Regions from separate parts of the Homo sapiens genome. Here region 1 is linked to region 2. The links come from fine-mapping of genetic effects on gene expression. A gene starts in region 2. The other region holds a variant in brackets. All regions are shown on one strand. Distances are between the middles of the regions.

Region 1 (4,406 bases), 890 kb after region 2:
ATTCATAACTGTTTTATTTATAGTAGTCCCAAACTGGGAACATCCAAAATGTCCATCAACAAAAGAATGGAATAAATTGTGATATATTCATCTGTAGAATACTATCTGGAATTGAAAAAGATCACACTACTGATAGATAGAATAATATGTATGAATATTAAAATGTTGAGCAAAAGAAGGCAAAGAAGAGTATATACTATATGCTTCTATTTATAAGAAATTCTAGACCAAGTAAAAATACTCTAAGGGATAAAAAGTCAGAAAAGTGGTAACCTGGGGTACAGTGGAGACTACTACCTAAAAGGGACATAAAAGAACTTTGGAAAATTATGAAGATATACTATATCTTTATCTGAGTAGTAGTTAATGGCTGTCAAAAAGTTAACACATTGTACACTTCAGATATGAGCATTTTATTGCATACAAATAATCCTGAAAAATTCAATAAAACAAAGCAAAACAAAGTTGTCATATTCAACTTATTCAAGTTAACAAATATCAGTGGGGTACCTAATACATGTTTGGTACTGTGTTTCAATAAATCCTAAGTGACAATTATTCACTAAGAGATAGAAGAAAAGCCAATGCCCTTGTGAAGTTCATTCTGTTGTGCAAGAGACAAGCTTATAAATATAACACTATTAGAGAAGAATCCAGAAGAAAAATAATCTGTTGCCAAAATGTGTGGGACAGATAAGTGCCGTAGAAGTGACAATACAAGTACCACTTTTTACAAATGAGACAGGGAATGGGCATGAGACATTTTAACGGTTAATTATGTGATGGATTAATATTTTACTTACTGTAAAAAATGGCATTAAAATATTATAGTTCGCCAGGCGCGGTGGCTCACGCCTGTAATCCCAGCACTTTGGGAGGCTGAGGCGGGTGGATCACCTGAGGTCAGGAGTTCGAGACCAGCCTGACCAATATGGTGAAACCCCATCTCCACTAATAACACAAAAAAATTAGTCATGCATGGTAGCGAATGCCTGTAATCCCAGCTACTCGGGAGGCAGAGGCAGGAAAATCTCTTCAACCTGGGAGGCGGAGGTTGCAGTGAGCCAAGATCCTGCCATCGCCCTCTAGCCTGCACAACAGAGCGAGACTCTATCTCAAAAAAAGTTAATAAATAAAATAAAATAAAATAAAATATTATAGTTCAAAACAAATCAACACAAATAAGCCACTTAAAACTCAGAAGAATTTTAGGGATCCCCAAATACTTTATCATAAGGACTTCAGTGAATTAATCCTTTAATAATTTTATATTAGCATTATCCTATGGTGAAATATAGAATAAACAGTAGGGAAAAAAGCTAGCATGCATTCAATAATCATCAATCATAATATCATAATTAAAAATTTATTTTGAGTTCTTTTAACATACTTTATTTTCTTCAAATATCTAAAGGGGGAGAGGATAGGAACCAGTTGTAACTAGGGTGACTCTGCTAGTCTAATTGCATGTCAAAATTTATTTGTCATTTTTAAATGATGCTGAAAATTTGGAGATAAATTCTTGAATAGTGAGAATTCTCCTATATGGGTTGGAATTCTCCATAAGATTCATTTGAACAAGAATGTATTGAATGCCTAGGGTCTGTACTTAGCACTGGGGACGAACACAGCCTTTATATACTCCCTGATACCAAAAAAATTATAATGTAGTTAGGTAGGCTGGAAGGGTAAAAAAATTTACATAAATCCAAGCAAAGAAATAAGAATAACAAAAATATCATCACATCTGCAGTGATGGGGTCTAGATTCTCAGTGGCCATGGACAGATGCAGTTATTCAAAAGTACAGCTACAGTATAAGTCAGGACCAAAGTGACCAAGACACTCAATATATATAGTTGGATTCTTTTAAAAAATGCAGCTGAATATGAGATGGTGATTTAATTTATAATGTAAGGCTTTCACATGTCATTTTAAAAAATCCTATAGTGTCGATTTTTCTTTGAAAAACGTGGTCATTTTAGCCACAATAAACTCTACAAAGTTCAGACCCGAAGTTTCTGTTGAAAGGGAAATAAGTTTTTTCCTCTCATCAGATTTAAGTCAGAAAATTTTAATGGTTATCTCTAGTTAGCATCCAAAGACCCCAGCAGTATATACTCAATGATCTCACACTCTGCTTAAACTCTTCAATGGCTTCCTGTTCCCTCGCAACAATACACAAATCTTTAAGATGCTCTAAGACCCTGTGTAGCCTGGCTTACCTGTAGTTCTTTCATCATGTCTCTGATTTGACAATTGTGATTTCATTCAAACTGAACTTTTTCATTCTCTTGAATGGACCCCTCATTTTTTCACTTATTTAGGTCTCACGTATCGTCTTTCTCTCTTTTTATCCAGCCTTTCTTGCTTCACCATCATCGTTAATGATTTTCCCCTGTAACTGCAACCACAGACCTTACTAAGTACTTCATTAACAGGTGTTGTACGTATAAATGTAAAGATATG[A/C]ATGTTCCAATGTCAATTCCATAAAACACAATTAGTGCAGTGTTATTCAAGTCATAACATACCAAGACAAGCCTGATCAGTTTCTCATAATCACTCTGGATATTTCCAGGATCCACCTGGCTTCCCCCTTCCTGCATTATGGCCCGGAAGCTCTCTTTGAAATGTAAGCCAGGACAATTCTAACGCTTGTCTCTTTCATTGCCCCTGTTTCTGGGATCAATGCTCTGTGCTGCTTGTTATTGTTTACTGTCTAGAAACTGTTGTTTCATTTTTTCCCACATTTTTGTTGTTATTTTGGGCAGAAAGATAAATCCAGTCCCTGTTACTCCATCGTGTTAGGTGTAGAAAAGTTTCAAAATCTAAGAAAATGACTGGCTCAGAGAAGGTACACCCTAAGATGGGAATTTTAATCTAAAAAATACTAAATACTAATAATGAACATTCTGTAACCCTGAAAACTATGCCTCCAAGTTTCCGAGAGGTAGTATGAAATTTTCAATCATCAAATGTCTAGAAAGAACTACTTCATGATAAAATATTTTTAATGTTATTCAGCCACTATCGTAATAACTTACACATCAATGACTATTCTTAGAAATGCAGTAAGTGGAATAAAATTAGAAAGAGATCAAAACCAGATATAGTTGCAAGAAGCCTCTAAATTGTTTTATAGTTCATTCTTCATTATCTTATTTTCTCTTATATTTATACGGGGAAGCGGGAAGCACTGAAGGTTGAAAGGTAGCTGCCCAAAGTAAAAAAAAATCCCAAGTTGATTTGAAGGGACAGGAAGACCATCTTATGTAATCCAATCTTCCTCCCCTGAACTGTGTTCAATAAATGCTGACTTAAAGCAGATGTCTTCAGCCCTTCTCATATATTAACAGCAACGTTTAATGAACATCATAAATGTGCCATGCACCATGATATGGTCTTCACATATACTATCCATTTAATCCTTATAGAAACTCTGTCTTATAGATACTATTATTATCGCCATTTCACAGATGAGAAAACTAAACATACAAAAGTTTTGAAATCTTCCTAGGATATCTCTATGCAATGAGAAACATAGGTCAAATCCATGCTCCTCTTTCTGTGCAAAAGTCCCAAATGACATTTAGTCTCTCTGGGTTTTAGGGGACCTGGTCTCTCATCCTTCCCTGTACCTATCACTCCATCATTCATGTTAGAAATCATCTAAAATATTTCTTTTTAAAATAATATTTCTAAAATATTTCTAAAGCGAATGTATGATAGGCATTGGGAAGCTGTTTAAAACTATAAATGTATAGCCTTATAAGAAATGTACTTTTGAGTCTATACTAAGCAAGCACTTCTCAAGAATATAGGGCCAAGCTCCATTCACTGGGTATGGGATTGGATTATTTTTAAGGCCTTTCAGACCTTAAGATGGTTCTGTGTACCTTGAATTTCGCTACCTATCTTTAATACTCATATAAAATGCCTTCATTTAACTCTATTCCTTGGAATTTCTTGCTTTTCACCACCTTCCCTATGTCACTGAATGAACATTCAAGACAAACATCCCTCTTTTCTCTAATTTATATCTTTATTTAACATTTTCCAGCCAACATTTTCCTACCAACAAAACAAAACTTGTATTGTTTTCTTTCATTCTGATTTCCAGATTCATATTCTTCTTACAATCCTTCCACTTATTTGATAACATACATTTTCATTATATTTTGTTTTATACTTAGTATGGCTTTATCTATTCCATTTGAAATGGAAACTGTTTAAGGATCTCAGTGTGTTGCAATCTTTCCCAATTTCTTTGATCTGTTTTTATAGCAACTTCCTCTTGCTATAGTTTGGATGTCTGTCTCCTCAAAATCTCATGTTGAATCCGATCCTCAATGTTGCAAGGAGGGGCCTAATGGGAAGTATTTGGGTCAGGGAGATAGATACCTCAAA
Region 2 (4,352 bases):
GGCCCACTGTGCATTATAAGGGCCACTGCAAGGGAGATGGGGAGCCAAGGAAGGGTACTGAGCAGGGGAGTCACATAATCTGACTTGTGTTTTAACAGGATCGCTCAGACTGCTTTGTTGAGAAAGCACTGTGAGAGCTAAGGGTAGAAGCCGAGAAACCAGTGTTGGTGCTATTGCCATACTCCAGGCAAGAGATAATCAACCGCTTAGACCAGAGTAGTAGCATTCTTTAACACATTAAAAAAATATGTAGAGGCTGGGCATGGTGGCTCATCCTTAATCCCTTAACCCCAGCACTTTGGGAGGTGGAGGTGGGCAGATTATTTAAGCTCAGGAGTTCAAGATCAGCCTGGGAAACATGACAAAACCCCATCTCTATAAAAAATACAAAAATTAGCTGGCCGTGGTGGCTGGTGCCTATGGTCCCAGCTCCTCTGGAGGCTGAGGTAGGAAGATCACTTGAGCCCAGGAGGTGGAAGTTGCAGTGAGCCAAGATTGCACCACTGCACTGCAGCCTGGGACAGAGCAAGACCCTGTCTCGAGAAAAAAAAATTTTATATATATATATATATATGAAGAGAGACAGAGAGAGAGAAAATACAATATAAAGGGAGACAGAAATGTCCTCTCCCAGTCTATGTGCTCCTTGCTGCTAATATTGTGTAGAAGCCAGAAATGGAAAGAGCGATGGTCCTTTTCATTTACATTTTCTCCCGTCTTCTACCACCCTTAATTCTGTACTATTAAAGTTAATTCTTGAGCTGTAAGACAGTGATCTATGAACATATATATTTCTTTTCCCTCTGGCTTGCAGAGCTCCTTATCCATTGATACTGCACGCAAGCAAGAGGAAATGTTAGGAACAACTCAGTATGATATCTTCTTTCAGGATAAAGTTACCAAATTAAACAAATGGTAAATGACCATGTTTTCCTTTTGGTTTTAATAACCAGTGCTTAATCCAAGAAACCTGCTTGCTTAGATATTTTTGTTCAATGATCATCTGTTATCCCTACTGAAAGGTGTAGCTGTGGATGACTAGGTAGACTCCGGAGGGATAAAATGAAGGAGGGAGCAGGTGGTGAATGTGAAGAGTGGAGAGGAGAGGAGGAGAATTGGGGAGTAAAAGATACACAGATGTGAGCTCCGGTGATCTGTAGCAATGCACAAAAGAACAGAGAAAGAGCCAGTGCTTCTCCAGCCACATTTGTAGACTCCACCAGCCTTGCAGCTGTGCTTTCTCGTCCGGAGAAGTCTTGATTGACCCAGGGTTCAGACAATTCTGGTATCACCTCTGGGGAGAAAGACTGGAAAGTCAGAGCTTACTTATTCAGAAGCTAGATGCTTGTGTAAAGAAAATTCTACTGCACGTAAGCACAGGTTATTGAAATTCTACAAACTGTAGTGAGACATAATGTTACAGCATCAAACACACACACATATTACTTAGTGCATGCTCCCTGCTTGCTTGCGTTCTCTCTCTCTTTCACGTGGGCACACACACACGCACACCAATACACCGGCCATTCCCTCATCGTTCTGTGCTGGCATTCTGGCATAGAATCATCCTTCAATTGACTGGAGTGATCACCTTAACTCCGTTAAATCATTACGTAGTATATGTAATTGTTATTAACCTCATCGTAAAAGGTGATGCTATGATTCATGTTGCAGACATTATTAACTGGAACAAATAGGCGACACTATTTGGTTCGTTCTTATTTTGCAAATGGGCGAATTGAGGCCCGCAGCCATAAGTGATTTGACGAAGACCACAGACTGATTCGGAGACAGGAGGCAAAATGACACAGGAATGATTCACAAGCCTCTGTCACAAGGGAGTTTTCTGCTTGTAACTTATCAGGGAGGCAAATTTTCTGAAATCATTTTTTCAAATCTCAGATCCATGACTTTTCTGTTGAGCAATGCTGCTGCTTCCTCTCAGCCTCCGCCCACCACCACCACTACCATGTTTAGATGTTGTATTTCATTTAAGGATTTTTCAGTTTTCCTTCCTCGCTGAAAAAGTGATACTGAAATACACTACGAAAACTTTTGTCCTCCCTCCAAAACAAATATCTTACCAGTCACAACTCCACCATTATAACAGAATTATCTTCATTTTTTACATAGTCTTTCTTTTTTGCCACAGTGACTTGTTTTTACATAGCTGAAGTCATAATGAGTAGGCTAGTTTATATTCAGACAATTTTATTTACCAATTATAAGGCGTTTTCCATTCTGTGCAATCATCATTTCAAGTATGTTTCTGATTAATACTTGTTAATTTTGGAATGTAATGTACATATATGGAAACTACTGAAGTTATTGAAGTTGTATGTACATACATTGAAACTACTGAAGAAAATCAGCAATAATTCAACCACCCTCGGAATAACTGATGGATTTCCCCAGCCTTCACATATATGCTTCTTATTTTAAGAATTGAAACTAATGCTGCATGAACAGGTTTCTATTTGCTCCCTGCCCCCTTCGTTTAAAAACAAGGTGGAGACTAAAGGCTCTCAGCCTCAGTTTCTCCATATGCAAAATATCAGGATTAAATAAGTCATGCTAAGGGCTGGAACAAAGTGAGGGCTCTGCAGCGTGTACGCCGGGCACTCAGCCGTGGATGGCAGGGGACGGCGTTCTGTCCCCGGGACGGAGCGCAGGCCTGTAATTGTCCCTCCCGCCTAGGCCATCACTTTCAGGCTTGGGTACGCGCCGCCGTCTGCTCCCCTGGGGCCGCCAGGGGGCGCTGTGGCCCCGGTGCGCGGCAGCCGCGCGACACGGGCCCTCCCTCGGAGTCTTCGGCACCGCCCTGTCCCAGCCTCCTTTGCGGGTAAACAGACATGGCCGGCGAAGGAGATCAGCAGGACGCTGCGCACAACATGGGCAACCACCTGCCGCTCCTGCCTGGTAACCGCCCGGAGTAGTTCCCTGTAGTCGGGAGTGGGGCGAGGCTCGGAGCCGCTAGCGGTGCAGCTGGGCCTGGGAGGCGGGCGTGGGGGCGCCAAGCCTGGCGAGCCAGCCCAGCAGGGCCGCACCGGAAAGCTGCTTCACGTCGGCCCTCGGCCAGCGATGGAGTCGCGGCGCTTTCTTCGCTGCTCTGTTGCCCCGAGCCGTGAGCCAGGGTGTCGGGGGGAGCATTTGCTATTAAGAACAGGAAACCCATCCTCTCCATCCTCCTTGTGTTCTGAGTTTAGCTCCTAGGAAATGCTCTGAAACTAGAGGACCGGGTCAGATTCACAGCGGTTACTTTTGCTGGTCTCCTTCCTTTTAATAAGAGTGACAGCTAACATGTACTAAGCACTTACCATGTTACGAGCCGTGCAGTTAACGCTTTGCATGCATGTCGCCTTTTAATCCTTCCCACATCAGTTTTCAGTTTCCGATTTGATAAGCGAGTATTGGATTTGCAGATTAGTTCAATGACTTGCCCAAGGTCACACAGCAGAGTCAGGATTCCAACCCGGGTGTGTCTGTCATTATATCTCTAAACCACTTCTCTGTTTTGTTTTTCTTACTATCGGTCTTTCTCAGGCATGTACGATTATGCTTAATCAGAGATACTTAGTTTTTCTTTTTCCTGTATGTTGTGTGAAATGTTTAGACTTTGGCCTTGTGTTGAAATACTGAACAAAAAAAAAAATGCATGGAATATTGCATAAACTTTTCATGGAATGCCTTTCAAGAGATGCTTTCCAAAAGGTGTATCATCCAAACTTGAAAGTATTACTTGAGTCCCTTCGTTATATGACAAGTATGTTAGGTGTTGTGGAGATGAAACGAGAGGTAATACACAATCTGATAATTGAGGTTTACTGTCTAGGCGGGGCTGCTGAGAATATAACTAAACGTAAATCAACTGCAGAGGCGGTTGATTTAGGGCCAGATAAATGAATGCTGTTGTGGCTCTTCAGAGGCAGAGGTTGTTTAAGGGTCAGAGGATTTGGGAAAAAGCCTTTCAGGTAGATCAGGAGACATCTAAAAGCACATATTTAGGATATGGTTGTGGGACATAAGGCCTAGGAGGTATATTGGGTCTAAGTTGCTGGGAAACTGGCATCTCTTGCCAGTGGGTTTGGGTTTTTCCTGTGGATTGCCAAGAAACAGTTTTAGGTTTCAGGTAATTGCCTAAAGAAATCTATGCTTGGAAGATTAATTTGTCCACTGGTAGCAGCATGGATTAAAAGAGGAAGAGACTGAGTGCGTGCCCACCATATAGGAGAGAACTTTTCTGTAAAAATAAACCATAGTCACTGGTTGTTCTCGAAGCCATTCTAGCTGAGTTGACACAAGGGTAAGTGTGCCAGCCTTTGATGGAAAGCTGAGCTATTTTTTCAGAGACA

What was found. PIP is the estimated chance that this variant, and not a neighbour inherited with it, causes the effect.
Region 1: its variant is the best candidate, but not a certain one, in a credible set for the expression of CRBN in pituitary (GTEx, PIP 0.71).

Annotation. Positions count from the first base shown.
Region 1 is chr3:2,288,463-2,292,868 of GRCh38, reverse strand. The region is part of intron 2 of CNTN4 (contactin 4); the gene reads right to left. Among named protein-coding and RNA genes, the nearest start is that of CNTN4-AS2, 150 kb to the right of the region's middle. The variant A/C (reference allele first, on the strand shown) is at 2,469.
Region 2 is chr3:3,178,188-3,182,539 of GRCh38, reverse strand. CRBN (cereblon) reads left to right here and starts at 2,849. Exons shown (of 11, transcript NM_016302.4): 1 at 2,849-2,919. The coding sequence starts at 2,853. RefSeq lists a silencer at 2,616-2,785.